Linked DNA regions of Homo sapiens. The protein of the gene in region 3 purifies or fractionates together with the protein of the main gene of each other region. This does not show direct contact. Each region holds a gene or a part of one and is shown on either strand. Other genes may lie near its edges.

What was found.
Region 1: the proteins of GAN (region 3) and WDR76 purify together in Homo sapiens (affinity purification with mass spectrometry; 3 studies listed by BioGRID and IntAct, with this or other methods). This does not show direct contact.
Region 2: the proteins of GAN (region 3) and QRICH1 purify together in Homo sapiens (affinity purification with mass spectrometry; 2 studies listed by BioGRID and IntAct, with this or other methods). This does not show direct contact.

What each region holds. Positions count from the first base shown.
Region 1 is NC_000015.10:43,850,936-43,854,687, forward strand, and holds part of WDR76 (WD repeat-containing protein 76), read left to right. Parts: intron 1-151; coding exon 152-310; intron 311-3,752. UniProt on the Homo sapiens protein: Specifically binds 5-hydroxymethylcytosine (5hmC), suggesting that it acts as a specific reader of 5hmC.
Region 2 is NC_000003.12:49,059,436-49,063,187, reverse strand, and holds part of QRICH1 (transcriptional regulator QRICH1), read left to right. Parts: intron 1-3,752. UniProt on the Homo sapiens protein: Transcriptional regulator that acts as a mediator of the integrated stress response (ISR) through transcriptional control of protein homeostasis under conditions of ER stress.
Region 3 is NC_000016.10:81,352,846-81,356,597, forward strand, and holds part of GAN (gigaxonin), read left to right. Parts: intron 1-1,559; coding exon 1,560-1,910; intron 1,911-3,752. UniProt on the Homo sapiens protein: Probable cytoskeletal component that directly or indirectly plays an important role in neurofilament architecture.

The DNA.
Region 1 (3,752 bases), on a different chromosome or scaffold from region 3:
ACTTTGTGAAGGGGAGAGTGGTTACAATTATAGACTAAGAAAAGACTGAATATAATCCAGTGTAAATTCTTTAATGACATAATAGCATAGCAAAAATCACTATTTTTCACTAGTTTTTTTCTCTCTCCCCTTTCCCGCAACTCTCTTCCAGACCCAGCAACCTAAAGAAGATGGAGTTTATGTTTTTCATCCCCATAGTCAGCCAGTTAGCTGTCTTTACTTCTCACCCGCCAATCCGGCCCACATACTGTCACTGAGCTATGATGGCACGTTACGCTGTGGGGATTTTTCCAGGGCTATTTTTGAAGAGGTAAATGTTAATGTGTTTACATGCTGACTTCAGATGATATTCTAGATTCTTCGAAATGCCACATGAATAATTATTATACCAATTGGGAGAAGTGGTATAGCAGAAGGACTTTGAGAACTACGCTGCCTAAGTTCAAATCCCAGATCATCTGTTACTAGTTGTATGACCTTGACAAGTTGCTTAACCTTGTTGTGCCTCACTTTCCTTAGCTGTGAAATGGGATTTAACAGGACTGACCTTACAGGGTTGTCATGAGAATTTAATGAGCTTATGCAGATAAAGTACTTAGAAGAGAGCCTGGCACATAGTATGTGTTTGCGCTTGTTAAATTTCTTTTTTTTTTCTCTCCCAAAGCTTTTAACTAAAATAACTTACTCTTCTGTTTTTAGGCATAAGACTTGTATTTAGCTGGGTGTGGTGGCTCATGCTTGTAATCTCAGCACTTTGGGAAGCCAAGGTGGGAGACTCACTTCAGGCCAGGAGTTCCAGACCAGCCTGGGCAACATGGCGAGACCTTGTCTCTACAGAAAATAAAAAATATTAGCTGAGCTTGGTGGTGTGTGCCTGTAGTCTCAGCTACTCAGGAGGCTGAGGTGGGAGAATCACTTGAGCCCAGGAGTTCAAGATCAGCCTGGGCAACATAGTAAGACCTTGTCTCTAAAAAAAATTAGCTTGGTGTGGTGGCATGTGCCTGTAGTCACAGCTACTCAGGAGGCTGAGGTGTGAGGATTGCTTGAGCCCAGGAGATTGAGGCTGTAGTAAAGCCGTGATCACATACATCATTGCACTTCAGCCTGGGTGACAGAGTGAGACCCTCTCTCAAAATAAGACATCTTCTACTTAATGTTTAAAACAAACATATCATTTGAAATGAACTTTCAGATTTGCTTAACTGTATCAGATTGCCTCAATAAGATAAGTCTTATAAGTTGAACTTTTTTATTTTATTTTTTTTGAGACGGAGTTTTACTCTCGTCACCTAGGCTGGAGTGCAGTGGCGAGATCTCGGCTCACTGCAACTTCTGCCTCCCAGGTTCAAGCAATTCTTCTGCCTCAGCCTCCTGAGTAGCAGGGATTACAGGCACCCATCATCACGCCCGGGTAATTTGTTGTTGTTGTTGTTGTCGTCGTTGTTGTTGTTGTAGAGATGGAGTCTCACTCTGTCGCCCAGGCTGGAGTGCAGTGGTGCGATCTTGGCTCACTGCAAGCTCCGCCTCCCAGGTTCAAGTGATTCTCCTGTCTCAGCCTCCTGAGTAGCTGGGACTACAGGCGCATGCCACCATGCCAAGCTAATTTTTGTATTTTTAGTAGGGACGGGGTTTCACCATGTTGACCAGGCTGGTCTCGAACTCCTGACCTTGTAATCCACCTGCCTCAGCCTCCCAAAGTGCTGGGATTACAGCGTGAGCCACTGTGTGTGGTCAGATTTGCCTCTTCTGGACATTTCATATAAATGAAATCATACAATTTGTGGTCTTTTGTGACTGGTTTCTTTAACAAAATGTATTCAAAGTTCATCCATGTTGTAGCCGTGTATCAGTACTTCATTCCTTTTTATGGCTGCATAATATGCCATTGTATGGGTATTCCACATTTTATTCATCTGTTCATCAGTTGATGAACATTTGTGTTTCTATTCTTTCTTTATATATTTATTTTTGAAACAGAGTCTCGCTCTTGTTGCCCAGGCTGCAGTGCAGCAGTGCAATCTTGGCTCACTGCAACTTCCACCTCCCGGGTTCAAGCAATTCTCCTGCCTCATCCTCCTGAGTAGCTGGGATTACAGGCACGTGCCACCACACCTGGCTAATTTTTGTATTTTTAGTAGAGACAGGGTTTCCCCATGTTGGCCAGGCTGGTCTTGAACTCCTGACCTCAGGTGATCCACCCACCTTGGCCTCCCAAAGTCTTGGGATTACAGGTGTGAGCCACCACGCCTGGCCTTACTTATTTTTATTTTTTGAGATGGGGGTCTCACTCTGTCACTCCAGCTGGAGTGAAGTGGCTTGATCTCGGCTCACCGCAGCCTCTGCCTCCCAGGCTCACGTGATCCTCCCACCTAAGCCTCCTGAGTAGCTGGAACTATAGTCATGTGTCACCATGCTTGGCTAATTTTTGTATTTTTAGTAGAGACGGTGTTTTGCCATGTTGCCCAGGCTGGTCTCAAACTCCTGAGCTCAAGTGATCTGCCCACCTTGGCCTTCCAAAGTGCTGGTATTACAGGCATGAGCCACCGCGCCTGGCTGTAACTTACATTTCAATAAGCTTGACTTTAAAACAATAGGTGGAGAACTCCTATAGCTTAATTAAAAAAGCTAACCCAATTAAAAAATGGGCAAAGGATCTGAATAAACATTTCTTTAAAGAAACACAAATGGCACCGGGTGCGGTGGCTCACCCCTGTAATCCCAGAACTTTGGGAGGCTGAGGCGGGTGGATCACCTGAGGTCAGGAATTTGAGACCAGCCTGGCCAACATGGTGAAACCCCATCTCTACTAAAAATACAAAAATTAGCCAGGCGCGGTGGCAGGCACCTGTAGTCCCAGCTACTGGGGACGCTGAGGCAGGAGAATCGCTTGAACCCGGGAGGTGGAGTTTGCAGTGAGGTGAGATTGCACCACTGCACTCCAGCCTGGGCGACAGAGCGAGACTGTCTCAAAAAAAAAAAACAAAAAAAAACAAAAAAACCCCACAAATGGCAAATAAGCACATGAAAAGATTCTAAGCATCATTATTCATTAGGGAAATGCAAATCACAATGAGATACCCCTTTACACTCACTAGGATAACGATACTTGCCAGTAATAAGTGTTGACAATGATGTGGAAAAATTGAAACCCTCATATTTTGAGAATTGGTATGTGAAATGGTAAAGTTGGTTGGGGAAAGTTTGACAGTTCCTTAAATGTTAAACAGAGTTACCATATGACCTAGCAATATCCCTCCTAGGTATACACCCAAGAGAAATGAAAGCACATGTCCACACAAAAACTTGTACGGGAATGTTCATACAAGCATTATTTGCAATAATACAAAGAATAGGTTGGGCATGGTAGCTCACACCTGTAATCTCAGCACTGACAGAGGCCGAGGAGGGTGGATCACTAGAGCTCAGGAGTTCAAGACCAGCCTGGCCAACATAGTGAAACCGCACCTCTAAAAGAATACAAAAATTAGCTGGGCGTGGTAGCATGCGCCTGTGGTCCCAGCTACTTGGGAGGCCTGAGGCATGAGAATCACTTGAACCTGGAAGGGTGAGGCTCCAGTAAGCCGAGATTGCATCACTGCGCTCCAGTCTGGGTGACAGAGGGAGACTCTCAAAAAAAGTTACATATGGTACAATTTACCACTTTAGGTATATAATTCTCTGAGTTTTGGTGAATTGTGTACACATGTGTAACTATCGTAATCAAGATATAGAGCTGGGCGCAGTGGCTCACG
Region 2 (3,752 bases), on a different chromosome or scaffold from region 3:
TATCTGTAACTAAATATTATTTTATGTTTAAAACACTGTAGGGAAGTAGACATTCTCCCCTTTTATACTTACTGTACCTAAAGAAACTGTTTAGAGGTTAAATTTCCCCATGGATTCACAGGCAGAAAAGTGCAGCATCAATTCACATTGAAGTCTGTGATCTCAAAACCTGAGCCTTTTTTTTTTTTGAGACGGAGTCTCGTTCTGTCACCCAGGCTGGAGTGCAGTGGCGCGATCTTGGCTCACTGCAAACTCCGCCTCCCAGGTTCACGCCATTCTCCTGTCTCAGCCTCCCGAGTAGCTGGGACTACAGGCACCCGTCACCACGCCTGGCTAATTATTTTAATAGAAATGGGGTTTCACCATGTTAGCCAGGATGGTCTTGATCTCCTGACCTCATGATCCGCCTGCCTCGGCCTCCCAAAGTGCTGGGATTACAGGTGTGAGCCACAGCGCCCGGCCTTTTTTTAAAAAATATACTTAGTAACAGCTTTATTGAGATATAAGTTACCCATTTGAAATGTATAATTCAGGCACACTGGCTCACACATGTAATCCCAGCACTTTGGGAGGCCAAGGCAGGTGGATCACTTGAGGTTAAGAGTTTGAGACCAGCCTGGCTAACATGGTGAAACCCTGTCTGTGCTAAAAATGCAAAATTTAGCTGGGCATGGTGATGCGTGCCTGTAATCCTAGCTACTCAGGAGGCTGAGGCAGGAGAATTGTTTGAACCAGGGAGGCGGAGGTTGCAGTAAGCTGAGATTCCACCACTGGGCAACAGGGCAAGACTTTACCTCCCAAAAAAAAAAAAAAAAGCGACTACACCAATTTTTTCTTGTTTTTTTTTTTTTCTGAGATGGAGTCTCACTCTGTCCTTGACTGGGCTGGGTATAGTGGCGCCATCTCGGCTCACTAGCTTCCACCTCCCAGGTTCAGGCAATTTTGCTGCGTCAGCCTTCCGAGTAGCTGGGATTACAAGCATGTGTAACCACGCCCAGCTAATTTTTGTATTTTTAGTAGAGACAGGGTTTCACCATGTTGGCCAGGCTGGTCTGGAACTCCTGACCTTGTGTCCACTGGCCTCAGCCTCCCAAAGTGCTGGGATTACAGGTGTGAGCCACCGCATCTGGCCAACTACACCAATTTAACATGCCCACCAGCAGTTTCAAGTTGTCTATATCCTTACCTATACTTGTTATCTGTCTTTTTTAGATATAACTTATTAGATATAAAGTGGTTTCTCATTGTGGCTTTGATTGGAATTTCCTTCACAGCTAGTATGATATGGAGCAACTTTTTATGTGGTTCTTGGCCATTTGCATATATTCTTTTTTTTGGGAGATAGTTTCACTCTTGTTGCCCATGCTGTGGTGCAGTGGTGCAATCTCGGCTCACTGCAACCCCCACCTCCTGGGTTTAGTAGTTCACCTGCCTCAACCTCCCAAGTAGCTGGGATTACAGGCATGCACCACCATGCCTGGCTAGTTTTGTATTTTTAGTAGAGACGGGGTTTCACCATGTCGGTCAGGCTGGTCTCAAACTCCTGACCTCAGGTGATCCACCCACCTTGGCCTCCCACAGAGCTGGGATTACAGGCATGAGCAACTGTGCCTGGCCTCATTTTCTGCCTTCTTGTTTTCTACCTTTCTAATTCCTACTTGTGGTTAGGGTAATTTATCTATGTGTCTGATGGTAAAAGCTGTTTTTTAAAAGTTGCATACTATGTATTTTTTTCTTTTCATGCTCTTTTGCATGCTGACATAATAATAAGACAGTAACTGTATTGTTATCAGAAACATGTCATCCAGGTTATGGTAATATTGCTCAGATTAAATTATTGGGATTCTGTTTATTTAAATGCCTTTCCCATTAAACATATGTTAAGTAAGCACTCTAAAGCAGTGGTCCCCAACGTTTTTTGCACCAGGGACTCGTTTTGTGGAAGACAGTTTTCCACAGACATTGATGGGGGTGGTGCTTTGGGATGAAACTGTTTCACCTCACATCATTAGGTGTTAGATTTTTTTTTTTTTTTTTTTTTTTTTTTTTTTTTAAGATGGAGGCTCACTCTGTCACCCAGGCTGTGATGCAGTGGTGCTCTCTCTGCTCACTTCAACTTCCGCCTCCTGGGTTCAAGCTATTCTGCCTCAGCCTCTCAGGTAATTGGGATTACAGGCATGCACCACCATGCCTGGATAATTTTTTATATTTTTAGTAGAAGTAGAGGTGGGGTTTCACCATGTTGGCCAGGCTGGTCTTGAACTCCTGGCCTCAAGTGATCTGCCCTCCTCAGCCTCCCAAAGTACTGGGATTACAGGTGTGAGCCAATGCACCTGGCCAGGCATTAGATTCTAATAAGGAGCATGCAGCCTAGATACCTCACATTTGCAGTTCACGATAGGGTTTGTGCTCCTACAAGAGTCTAATGCCACCATTGATCTGACAGGAGGTGGAGCTCAGGTGGTAATGCTCACCTCTGTGCTGTGTCGTTCGCCTACGGACCAGTACTAGTCCTTGGCCCCAGGGTTGGGGACTTCTGCCCAAAAAATCAGGCTGGGGGCTGGGTATGGTGGCTCACGCCTATAATCCCAGCACTTTGGGAGGCCAAGGCTGGTGGATCACCTGAGGTCAGGAGTTTTGGACCAGCCTGGCCAACATGGTGAAACCCCGTCTCTACTAAAAATACAAAAATTAGGGCTGGGTGTGGTGGCTCACACCTGTAATCCCAGCACTTTGGGAGGCCAAGGCAGGCAGATCACGAGGTCAGGAGATCAAGACCATCCTGGCTAACACGGTGAAACCCTGTCTCTAATAACAATACAAAAAATTAGCCAGTCGTGGTGGCGGGTGCCTGTGGTCCCAGCTACTTGGGAGGCTGAGGCAGGAGAATGGCATGAACCTGGGAGGCGGAGCTTGCAGTGAGCTGAGATCACACCACTGCACTCCAGCCTGGGCGACAGAGCGAGACTTGGTCTCAAAAACATATATATGTATATATAAATTAGGTCTGGGCGTGGTGGCTCACGCCTGTAATCCCAGCACTTTGGGAGGCCGAGGTGGGCGGATCATGAGGTCAGGAGATCAAGACCATCCTGGCTAACACGGTGAAACCCTGTCTCTACTAAAAATAAAAAAATCAGCCGGGCGTGGTGGCACGCACCTGTAGTCCCAGCTACTCGGGAGGCTGACACAGGAGAATCGCTTGAACCGGGGAAGTGGAGGTTGTAGTGAGCCGAGATCGCACCACTGCACTCTAGCCTGGGCGATAGAGCGAGACTCCGTCTCAAAAAAAAAAAAAAAAAGTTAGCTGGATGTGATGGCAGGCACATGTAATCCCAGCTACTTGGGAGGCTAAGGCAGGAGAATAGCTTGAATCCGGGATGCAGAGGTTACGGTGAGCCGTGACTACCATATCACTCCAGCCTGGGGAACGAGCGAAACTCCATCTCAGAAAATAAATAAATAAGGCTAGGCATGGTGGCTCAAGCCTGTAATCCCAGCACTTTGGGAGGCCAAGGTGAGCGGATCACAAGGTCAAGAGATCGAGACCATCCTGGCCAACCAACATGGTGAAACCTCGTCTCTACTAAAAATACAGAAATTAGCTGGGGGTGGTGGCATGCGTCTGTAGTCCCAGCTACTCAGGAGGCTGAGGCAGGAGAATAGCTTGAACCCAGGAGGCGGAGGTTGCAGTGAGCTGAGATCATACTACTGCACTCCAGCCTGGTAACAGCGAGACTCTGTCTAAAAAA
Region 3 (3,752 bases):
CTCTCCTCCACCTTGTAAAGTCAATCCAGCAGCAGTTATTAGTATAATGAGTTATAAGCCAGTAAGAGCCTATTCATGTTCAGGCTTGGATTTGAAAGTTGAAACATTATTTACAGATTGAGTTCTGTGATTTGTTCCCAATTTAAATTTAAAACGATAGTTGGGGCCGGGCGCGGTGGCTCACGCCTGTAATCCCAGCACTTTGGGAGGCCGAGGCGGGTGGATCACGAGGTCAGGAGATCGAGACCATCCTGGCTAACACGGTGAAACCCCGTCTCTACTAAAAATACAAAAAATTAGCCGGGCGAGGTGGCGGGCGCCTGTAGTCCCGGCTACTCGGGAGGCTGAGGCAGGAGAATGGCGTGAACCCCAGGGGGCGGAGCCTGCAGTGAGCCGAGATTGCGCCACTGCACTCCAGCGTGGGCGACAGAGCGAGACTCCGTCTCAAAAAAAAAAAAAAACGATAGTTGGAATGTAAGTTATAACAAACTCCTGAATTGGCAGTTTTGTTTTATTGAAATGCAGTTGAGTGTTTTTTTCACGTGCCTATATTTGAAGAGTCTACAGCTGCCTGCTGTCTTGTGGCTAAATATAATGTCATATAAATGGAACATTTTCCCCTACTTGTGGCTTACTCACCATACTACTTTCCACATTTTTGTTGCTCAGTTTCTAAGATGATTGGCAATTATACTTTTTTAAAAATCTGTGGTACAAAAAGTGTAAAATGTAAAAATGTTTCTTGCTATACTCCTCATGAAGTCTCCCTTGCATTTGCGAATGTGGGTGAAGTGCCCATGCTTTGGGGTCGTCCACTTAGGACTGTGGCAATATTTTAGAGAACTGTTTCTTTCCTGATGCTTTGGAGCACTGTGAAGTCAGTGGAGGAAGAAGCATTAGTCAGAAAATTGAAGAAAATTAAGGAAAAGTAGATGTTCATAATGAGAAAAAAAAAACACCCTTGTATTAGGGATTTATTCCAAAAAGTAGTTTTGAGACCTAAGTGTATCTGTCTGTGTACCAAATTGCACTGCGTACAGTGTTTTGGGATGCGGAATGAGGCTTCTGAAACACTGGAAACCCCTCTCCCTTCAAGGGGTTAGCATTCAGGTTGGCATGCCATTTAGCGGAAGAGTGAACTTCATAGGTGGGGAGGCAAGATTTTCATCAGTTCTGATGCTGGTACTTAATCATGTTGACTTTACCATAGAATGTAGAACTTTCCATTTCCCAAGCATTTGAGTCATTAAGGTTTTTCTCTGAATTACAGAAGTGAACAACATGGACAGTTCACCCTAAAAGGGTTATTGGTGGTTGACATTGGTACAGCAAGGGCAGAGCTGGGAAAAGTTAACCAAGCACACATTTGCTTATGTTGGTGCCTTCCAACTCTTGGAAAAAAAAAAAAAAATGCTGGGTTAAACCATATGAAATTGCCAATATTCGATTATCTTTGATCTAAAATAAATGGAAATTTCATGTGGCCCCAATTAATAGGTTAGTGGTTTGGGTTTTAAATGTACACATTCAAATATAAGATAATTATGCTACTTTTTTAGATCAGGCTAAATGAAGATACAATCCAAGATGTTGTTCAGGCAGCTGACCTGCTGCTACTGACGGACCTTAAAACCCTGTGCTGTGAGTTTTTGGAAGGCTGCATTGCTGCTGAGAACTGTATTGGTATCCGTGACTTTGCACTACATTACTGCCTCCATCACGTTCATTACCTTGCCACAGAATACCTGGAGACTCATTTCCGAGACGTCAGCAGCACGGAAGAATTCTTAGAGCTGAGTCCTCAAAAGCTTAAAGAAGTGATTTCTCTTGAGAAGTTAAACGTTGGCAATGAAAGATATGTCTTTGAAGCAGTAATTCGATGGATAGCACATGATACAGAAATAAGAAAGGTACCTGTCATTTATAACATGGTCAAATTTGCCTTTTTATTTCTTTTTAATTCAAATTTTAGTTGTTTTATTTTTCTTCTTCATCATGAAAGACTTACGATGCAGCAATCTAAAAGATACCTGTAAAACATGTTCCCCTATATCATGAAAGCAGTTGGTTTTTCAGACCAGTCTGCAAAAGCCCATGCCACACAATATATCAGTGAAAATATTAGCCCTTGTAAGGAGCGTAATATCCTTTGTATGTTGTTTTTAATGGGAAAATGCATTTCAAGCTTAAGCTGGAGATTATAGAAACGCAGTATCCCCACCCTTGCTCTCAGCATCCTGACCTACTATATCACTAGGCTAACCTCTGCCAGGCCTCAGGTGCCTGCAGCAGGCAGGGGGGTGGCACGTGGATCGATGGCAGGGGTGGAGGGGCATGGGCCTGAGGAGCTTCAGGTGTGATTGACACCACGCAGGAGAAAGCAGGCAGGCTCTGGAGTTTGTGTGGCAGTGCAGTTTCAAGAGGGAAGGTTCTGGGAGTGAAGGTCTTAAAGAATATCAGCCTCTAGATCCAAATTGTGAATACCTTGGAGGAAGGAGCAAAATCACAGGACTTGAGGGTTTTGAGGGGGCAGAGAGTCTCAGTCTGTCTCCCAGGCTGAAGGGCAGTAGCCAGAGTGGCACGATCATAGCTCACTGCAGTCCCAACCTTCCTGGCTGAAGTGATCTTCCCACCTCAGCCTCCGAGTAGCTAGGACCACAGGCGTGTGCCACCATGCCTAGCTAATTGTTTGATTTTTGTAGAGACAGGGTCTCGCTGTGCTGCCCAGGCTGGTCTCAAACTCCTGTGCTCAAGCAATCCTCCCACTCTAGCTTCCCAAAGTGCTGGGATTACAAGTGTGAACCACCATGCCCAGCCAGGACTTCATTTTTAAGTCTGATTATTATAAATAAGACACTAGCTCCAATTACTGTTTTCAAAATAAGAAATATATTAGGTGTTAGAGAGTGGATCTCACAATGTATAATTTTACTGTTAATTGTTCTTGTAAGTTAAAACTGGACTGTTAAATTTTGATGATTATCTTATAATTTTTTGAATTCTGTAAGCCCATAAGTATGCATGTTTAGAAACCATATTTGTAGTATTGGTTTTAATTGGGACAGGTAAGGACAGGTAGTGTTCTGCTTTCCATGTTAGTTGGGGAAATTGGTAAAGGAGATAGAAAAATGAGAAAAATTTCCTATGTGCTCCCACTCACCAAGACCACAGTGGGACATGCTGCTCCTTGCCAGCTTCCGTCCTGCCCTCTTCTTGCCTTAAAGCAAGGGAGATGCTTAAGGTTGGCTGGTTGCTGGGAAAACGAGGCAGTTCTTTGTCCTTTGGTCAGTTTAAACTTCATGCTGTAAAGACAGTTGATTTTTAAAACTCACAGTTTTATTTTACATTTATAAAATACTTTCGTCAGTTCAAATTTAGTGATTGAGCAGTAAAAGTGTAAATTCATATTAGTCGTCTTAGATATTTTTGAACAGTAATTACTGCAAAAATGATTATATAGTACTCAGGTTTTTTTTTAAACTTTGGCTTTTGTATATTTTTCTTGTATTATTAATGTTGATGTCTAAGTTTACCATATTGTATTGAGCTATTACTGTATATAATATTTGTATAAACATGATTTAACTCATGGCACATCCAAATGTGTGAAATAAAGCAAATTATAGCTGGTTCTTTTCCTGTCTTTTCCTATTGAAATGGGAATCCTTTAAGGTGTAAAGGAAGCTGCTTGAAACTTTTACAGTGATACCTCAAATAAACTGATGATTTTTAAAAATTAAACTTTTACTTAT